2 linked regions of the Homo sapiens genome follow. The protein of the gene in region 2 purifies or fractionates together with the protein of the main gene of each other region. This does not show direct contact. Each region holds a gene or a part of one and is shown on either strand. Other genes may lie near its edges.

Region 1 (3,825 bases), on a different chromosome or scaffold from region 2:
ACAGAGACATTTCCCAAACGTGATTTGTTATAGCTTATATTATGTGTTATAAGCTAGTGCATCTACTCTGTTGGTACTAATTTAAAACACTACAGGTCAAAAAAATTATAGCTAGGGCATTAGTGTCCAAAATTTGGCCTTTGGAAAAGTAGCCAAGCAACCATGGTGCTGGTGAGTGAAGAAATAGTACCTTTGGCTATCAAGACAGGTTTAGCTCTGGATCCCATTCCCTAGAAACACCTCTAAAATTATAGGAGATCATGTTGCAATTATTTATTTTTATTAAGTGGTGGCATGACAAATGGAAGTTCTGGCTCTGAATTTTGTCATGTGAAATAGAGTCTAATTATCCAAAAATACAAAACACTGTCTTACCTAGAAAGTAGATTTTAATACTCAGATAGTTTTTGAAAAAATTTTGGTATTAGAAGTGGTGTCTGTGTGTGTACCTGCATGTGTCTCAAACTCCTGAGTTCAAGGGATCCTCCCATCTCAGCCTTCCAAGTAGCTGGGACTACAGGCTAGTGTCACTGTGCCTAGCTGAAGGAATGCAATATCTCTATCTAGAGAGAGAAATACACATAAATTGCTGAGAAAATATCCTAGAGAAATTTTGGTCACAGGCAGGAATATTAAATCTATTGAATTTAAATGAAAAGACCAAGAAAAACCTTCAACAAACTTTTAACTTCATCTTTAATAATCTCTTACTTAATATATTTCAAAGCTATCTAAAGAAATGGTAATGCACAGTAACTGTCAATACAAATTTATCCAAAAGTTCTATTTGAAATAAAAGGGAATATAAATTTCATAAAGTTATTTTCTTTTGCTCTCTCTCTCTCTCTCTCTCTCTCTCACACACACACACACACACACACACACACACAACTGCCTGCATTTAAACATGATACCAGCATAGGCAAAACCGAAATGATGTAAATAATTGATAGAAACAGGAATGGGGCCATGGTCTCTATCATAAAACAATGGTAATACACACAGATGTGCACACACGTAAAATATGTTAGGCATCACAAATAGAATGTTAGTATTTTGGAATCAAATTTCCACTTGCCTACTTTTTCAATAAGGAACTGGGAATCCAAAATTTTATTCAATCACCATAAGCAAAACACCATAGAAATAAACTTTTGTCTTTCTGTGATCATTGAGAAAGAAAGATGAGTGCAAGAGCACAGAGGTGAAAGTGAAAACAACACCTTATGCTCATAAACAGGAAGAAGTGAGCGGATGCTGCTACTGTTGTTATCACTGCTCTTACCATCAGTGGGATTTTTCTTTGACCTTTGTCTTATTTATCTGTAGTTTGCACACGGGGCCTCTCATCAGTGGGTTGGGATTTTGGCTGCAGTGGCAGCTGTTGCCATTCAATGAGCACTTACTACATTCTGAGCATGTGCTAAGTGCTTTACATGAACAAGCCCAATGAGATAAGTATTATCCATATCCCCATTTTACCGATGAGGACACTGAAAGTAAAATAAGTTTACAACTTGCTCAAACTCATAGAAGTAAAAAGTGGCAAGCCCAGAGTTTACTCATGGGCATTCTCACTCCAGCTTCTTAACTATTATGGCTGGTATTTTGTTATCGGAGCCTTAGTTTTCCTTAACGTCTCAACAACATTAAAGCCAATTATTTTAAAAATGCTTTATAATCAATAGAGGTATTATTCCCATGAGTTCAGCAGAATATAAATAACCTCAAGGTTGCCTGTCAGTGGGAAAAAAAAGGAGAAAATAAAAGAAAACTAAATGTAAAATTGTCTAGGAAAATAAAGCAACTGTACAGATGACAAATACGCTACCTACAAATACCATTTTGAATATTTTTTCAAAATGGCTAAAAGTATAAACTTACACAATCTGTAGCATTAACTTCGACGCCAGCATCAAGTAGCATTCGTACAAGAGCCTCATTCTGCTTTGTCTTTGATACCTATTACAAATGGTAATTATAAGAAAGGCTTATTTACAAATAGTTTCTCCAATTTATGCCTGAGACTATTTAATCAATAGGCTTCATTTTAATCCCAACACTCCTATGCATGCATGCACCCTTCCTAAAATTTCCCCCAGCTTCTCACTCACTCTAATATCAATTAATTAAAGCCAGGTTCTCAGACTGTGGTCCTGAAGTAGCGGCACTGACACCTAAGAACCTTAGAAATGTACTTCTCAGGTCCCACCCCAAACCTACCTAATTCCACTGAGGATGGGGCCTAGTACCTGTCTTTCCCTTCCTGGCTCAAAGCTGTGCAATTACTTCCCATTGCTCTGAGGACAAAAGTAAACTCTTCAGCATGACCTACAAAGCCCCGTATGTTTTGGCTCCACGTATGGCCCTGCCCTGGCCTCTCTCTCACTCTGCGCCTCCTGGCTCACTCTGTTCTACTTACATTGGCCTTTGTTAATCTTTCATTCTCAGAGAATCATTGCACAGGAAGTTCCTTCTGCCTAGAAGCCTCCTCCCTCTCTTCTTTGCCTGGCATATTCACCTTTCATTCATCAGCCCAAGTCCCTCTTTCTCTAAGAAGCTTTCCCTGACCCACCTGACCAGGTGAAATCCCTCTTTTTTAGCTATCCTAACACCAGTCGCCTTTCTGTATCACCCGCTTTATGGTAATTTTACATGTGTTTGTGCCATTTGATTAATGACTCTCCCCACCACCCTCTAACTCTCATGGGGTAAAAAACTATGCCTATTTTGTTCATCATTGTGTCCCTAACAGCTAGCACAGCGTCTGGCACATAGTAGGTCCATAATAAACATACGTTAAAGAATTGAACAAATTAATGAAATGAACTAGGACTCCTCAGAAATTCACTTTTCCTTCCCAGTCTCCTGAGCTTCTGACCACAAGCCTGTTGGAGTCTTCCCCAACTTCCAGTCTCCTGAAGAGGCAAAGCTCTCCCTGCTCAGCTGGGTATAGCCCTGGAGTTCAACCCTGTCATCACCTGGGAAGCTCCATCCAGTTCTCTCTCCTTAGGCTTCCCTCTTGTGTCACCTCCTAAACTGCCTTTCTCTGCCTACTTTTCTCTGAAATAACCCAATGCTTTCCTCTCTCCTCCCCTATCATTTCCTCTCATGTCACTTATTTGTTAATTCATCACAAATTTACAACTTTAGGCCCCATTAATAAATTGCACGTGCATGAAACTAGAGTTGAGCTATTCATTACGATTACTATTTTTGCCCAGTCCTCCAGCCTCTAAACATTGAACCATCTTAGAAAGCAGAGTTGTGTGTCAATAAATTCTGAATGAGCCTTCTAATCACAGTTGTAATTTTTACCTTTAGAATCTCTAAAAATGTTTGTAAATAAATAACAGATTCTCCCTGCCCCCAAAATACATGTATTTAAATGCTATGTGCTAAATACATAATGAATTTTTAAAGAATTCTTCGAGGATATGAGCAGATTATATTTTTATTAGTGAATTAAAGTTCTTTTCTCTCTCCTATAAATCCAAATATAAAAATCAACATTGTCATGTTTAATTATAGTTCCTCAAATTCTGTGGCATTTAAATACCCAATGAAATAATAACATTTTTGACGGGCAGACTTGTTCTGCGGCTGATGTTAACAGGTGTAACCAATATTCACAGTTTATGAGCTACAACAAGGAGGGAGCTTGGTCATTTAATTAAAGTAAATTATGCATCTCTTGAGTCATGTCTGAGAAGTGGAACTGGGCACAAAGGAAACTAGATGGATAAAAGTGAGTAAGTCAGTGCAGATCTGTTACCCTATTGGGAAAAAAAACCAAAAACCATCTCAAGCTTCATCTTCTACTCC
Region 2 (3,825 bases):
CTAATCCTTTAAAACAAAAAACAAACAGGGATATGTTAACTAATAATTGGAGATGAATAAACTTAACTCTGCCAGCAAGGAAAGCTCTAAAGCCAATCCCACAATCAAGTGGCTCTAATCCTACCAAGTCTAAACAGACTAAGGTGACAGATAAGGAAATTCTGTGAAGCGATCTCCCTTATGCTGGACTGACAGGCCCATGGGAGGAGGGTAGACAATATACACAGTAAGTAGTCTGTGCTTCAGAAGAGACCCCATATGATTCTCATTAATAAACTACATATATTTTGGATGTGCATACACTGCTAGAAAGTCACCATAGTTTCAAAGCCAATCTTGAAAGATATTTTAAGAAATATACTAAAAGGGCCAGGTGCAGTGAGTGGCTCATGCCTGTAATCCCAACACTTTGGGAGACCAAGGCGATTGGATCACTTGAGCCCAGCAGTTGGAGACCAGCCTTGCCAACATGGCGAAACCCTGTCTCTACCTAAAAAATACAAAAAAATTAGCCAGGCATGGTGGCAGGTGCCTGTCATCTCAGATACTCAGGATTCTGAGGCAGAAGAATCACTCGAACCAGAAGGGCAGAGGTTGCAGTGAGCCAGGATCATGCCACTGCACTCCAGCCTCAGTGACAGCCAGAGCAAGACCCAGTCTCAAAAAAAAAAAAAAAAAAAAGTAAATCCTGGATCAAAACTGGATCAAAATTTAGTATTCTTCAACAGTGAACCAGAAGATGAAAATGGAAGTAAATTAGCAAATGACATGAAGAGTTGGAGTCATCGCAAAAAAAAAAAAGTAGAAATAGTTGCTAGTTATAGAAAACAACCAAGCTAGTGTATTTATGAATAAAAATCAAATGGTACTAGCACAATAAGGAAAAGCCTGCCTAAGTCCAAGAATGGCTTTTTAAATACATAATGGCCTACAAAATAAATGTAAGAAATATAGTCCTATTGTTAAGTACCTCCAACCAGAAATAATCTCTCTAAACTTTTGCAGAAATTTAGGCTATAGCTTTCTTATGGTGCGTAACACTTAACTTTATATAAATCCCCAGTCTGATTATAAACTTCTTACTGATTCTCCTCAGAGTAGGTACTCGATAAATACTGACTTCAGAATGCATATTGTACTGGGGTGGAACCAACTACAATAAGGTCATAAATCTTTATATTTTAGAAAACACTTTCAGATGTATAACATTACTCAATCCTCACAGCCTCCTGGGCAAGAAACAGGTTGTATACATTAAGCAATAGAAGCTGAGGCTTAGAGAGGTTAAATGACTAGCCCAAGAATCCTATGGCAACCTAATAGTAAGTGGCAGTCTCAAGGCTCAAATCTTATAAAACTCAATGCTATCTTCAGAATAACACTGTTCTCCCGAATAGCAGAGCATAAAGCGTATAGGATTTTAATTCAGAAGGTAATTCGACCTCCCTGGACAACAAAAATGCCATAAAAGAATCAGACTCAGCATTCACAGGCCAGCGTGGTTGTCGGTTCCACTTTTGGTCTCTGTATTTGCAAAGAGACGTAAAAAAATCCAAAACAAAAAGGATAACTAAAATTAGTATAACAAGGGCACAGGCAGAACGGTAGGATAGAGTCAAGGGGGTTATGTTCAGAGCATAACCAGAAGAAAACGTAGTGCCACAGGGAAAAACAGATGCAGGAGATGGTATTACAAAATGGTCATTTTAGTACTTTTTAAAAATCTATTTTTTTCCTCAAAAGACAGAAATTCACAAGTTATGATTTAGAACTATTTGGGACCATAAAGATTTTCAAATCTAAGCCCCTCTCACTTTATACATGAAGAAATTAAAGTCTAAAGAGATCTGGTAGTTTATCCAAGGTTATACAATTTTTTTGTGGCAGTACTAAGAATAGAATCTATGTCTCCCAACTCCTAGGTCAACTTTCTTAATATAAAACATAGAGGTTAATCCAAAACTGTGATTAAACACAAAAACCATCCAACAAACAAAAATGCCATGCCATAATCCATGAAACTAGCTTTGCATATAAAGAATAGTGAAATAAAGAATGCTTTGTATTTATTTTTTAAGATTTTGTTTATGTATCTATAACATAAACATTATTTAGTTGAAAGCATATCTGAATGTTCTGACACAATTCATTTTCCAGGGAGGTGAGCTAAAGTAGATGACTGAACAGTTTTTTAAAGCAAAGCATGAATCAAATTATTTTAATGATTTATGTTTTAGTAAAGAATACCAGGCCTGGTGCGGTGACTCACGCCTGTAATCCCAGCACTTTGGAAGGCTGAGGCAGGTGGATCACAAGGTCAGGAGATCAAGACCATCCTGATACGGTGAAACCCCGTCTCTACTAAAAAATACAAAAAAATTAGCCAGGCGTGGTGGCGGGTGCCTGTAGTCCTAGCTACTGTGGAGGCTGAGGCAGGAGAATGGCGTGAACCCAGGAGGCAGAGCTTGCAGTGAGCCGAGATTGTGCCACTGCACTCCAGCCTGGGCGACAAAGCAAGACTCCGTCTCAAAAAAAAAAAAAAAAAAAAAAGAATACCAAAGAAAATATTATAGCTATTCATTTCAAATGAATCTAGCTAGTCAACCCAAATTAACCAATCTAGACTCCTTTTAATGAGTTCACAGTGACTTTGTCTTCAGAGAGGAAGACAGGAAAGAGAAAGGAAACAACTCTCTCACTCTTCCCATTTCCCTACTGAAACAGGAAGTTTTGACAAAGGAAGGTAGAAAGCTGCAACATCACCACTGAACTTTCTCCCTTTCAGTTCACTTCAGGGATCCCATAATATTGAGTAATGTGGTAGAGCTTCCTAGCAGAATGGTTACCAAAATACCAATTCTCAGTTTTAGTTCTAGAAAAGGAGTTAATTTTTAATTAGTAATGCTACTTAAATATGTGAACAGGTGCTTAAATTTAAATTTTTAAGCACCGCTTTAACTGGTAGTAACTGAGCCTAAATATGTATTACACTAATGACCTTTTCATTATTGTTTACTTTTATATGCCATAGGACAAGCTAATGAGAAATGTGGCCTCCACTACACCAAGTGCTGGCTGGGAGGAAAAGACTAAAGAAAATCCCTCTACAGGTTTAGAAATACCTAGATACTGACATCTTTTATGTGTCAAAGCCAAAAAAAGCAAAAAGAGCTGCTTTTTCTTTCATTCTCAAGCTGCCCTACAGGTACCTGTTAAGACAATATATTACAGTATATTACACTTGGACCCACAAATATCAGCATGAGCCTGGAACTTCATTTATCTTGTCACTGTCATTGACTGTGGCTCTTTACTCACCAATATCGGGTGAAGAGCAAAAAGGAAAGATAAAGATACATTATTTAACTACCTTTTCTCTCTATGAATGCGGAGGAAGTGGCAGTACCACTCATCCAATGAAGGATCTCACGTTGTTCTTGCCTTGCTCAAATCACAGAAGTTTAAAGACAGAAGAGATGACCTTGTCTAACCTTTCCACTTACAGATAAGCAACCAATGGTCACTTGTCAGAGACATGCCAAAAGCCACACAACTAGACAGAATCAGAGATGGAATAAGATTAAAGAGGTTTGCTCATTCCCAGTCCAGTGTTCATTCTCCTTTCTTATGCTGCACTGCTCCAACAATATCTGGCAGCTCAAGGGGAAGTGTCAAGAGTGGGATAAACTGTCAGGAGTGGGATAAACAGCACGGGTTCAGTCTGGTTTGCAGGGCCACAGATTCTGAGGGCATTGCACTTGGCTTCTATTCCTGGTCACCAGAGTCACCCTTGTATCTAACACATCACAGTTCCTATGTTGATTC

Evidence for each region.
Region 1: the proteins of VPS13C (region 2) and ANKRD22 purify together in Homo sapiens (co-immunoprecipitation; one large-scale study listed by IntAct). This does not show direct contact.

The regions. Positions count from the first base shown.
Region 1 is NC_000010.11:88,824,154-88,827,978, forward strand, and holds part of ANKRD22 (ankyrin repeat domain-containing protein 22), read right to left. Parts: intron 1,963-3,825; coding exon 1,885-1,962; intron 1-1,884.
Region 2 is NC_000015.10:62,050,145-62,053,969, forward strand, and holds part of VPS13C (intermembrane lipid transfer protein VPS13C), read right to left. Parts: intron 1-3,825. UniProt on the Homo sapiens protein: Mediates the transfer of lipids between membranes at organelle contact sites. Necessary for proper mitochondrial function and maintenance of mitochondrial transmembrane potential.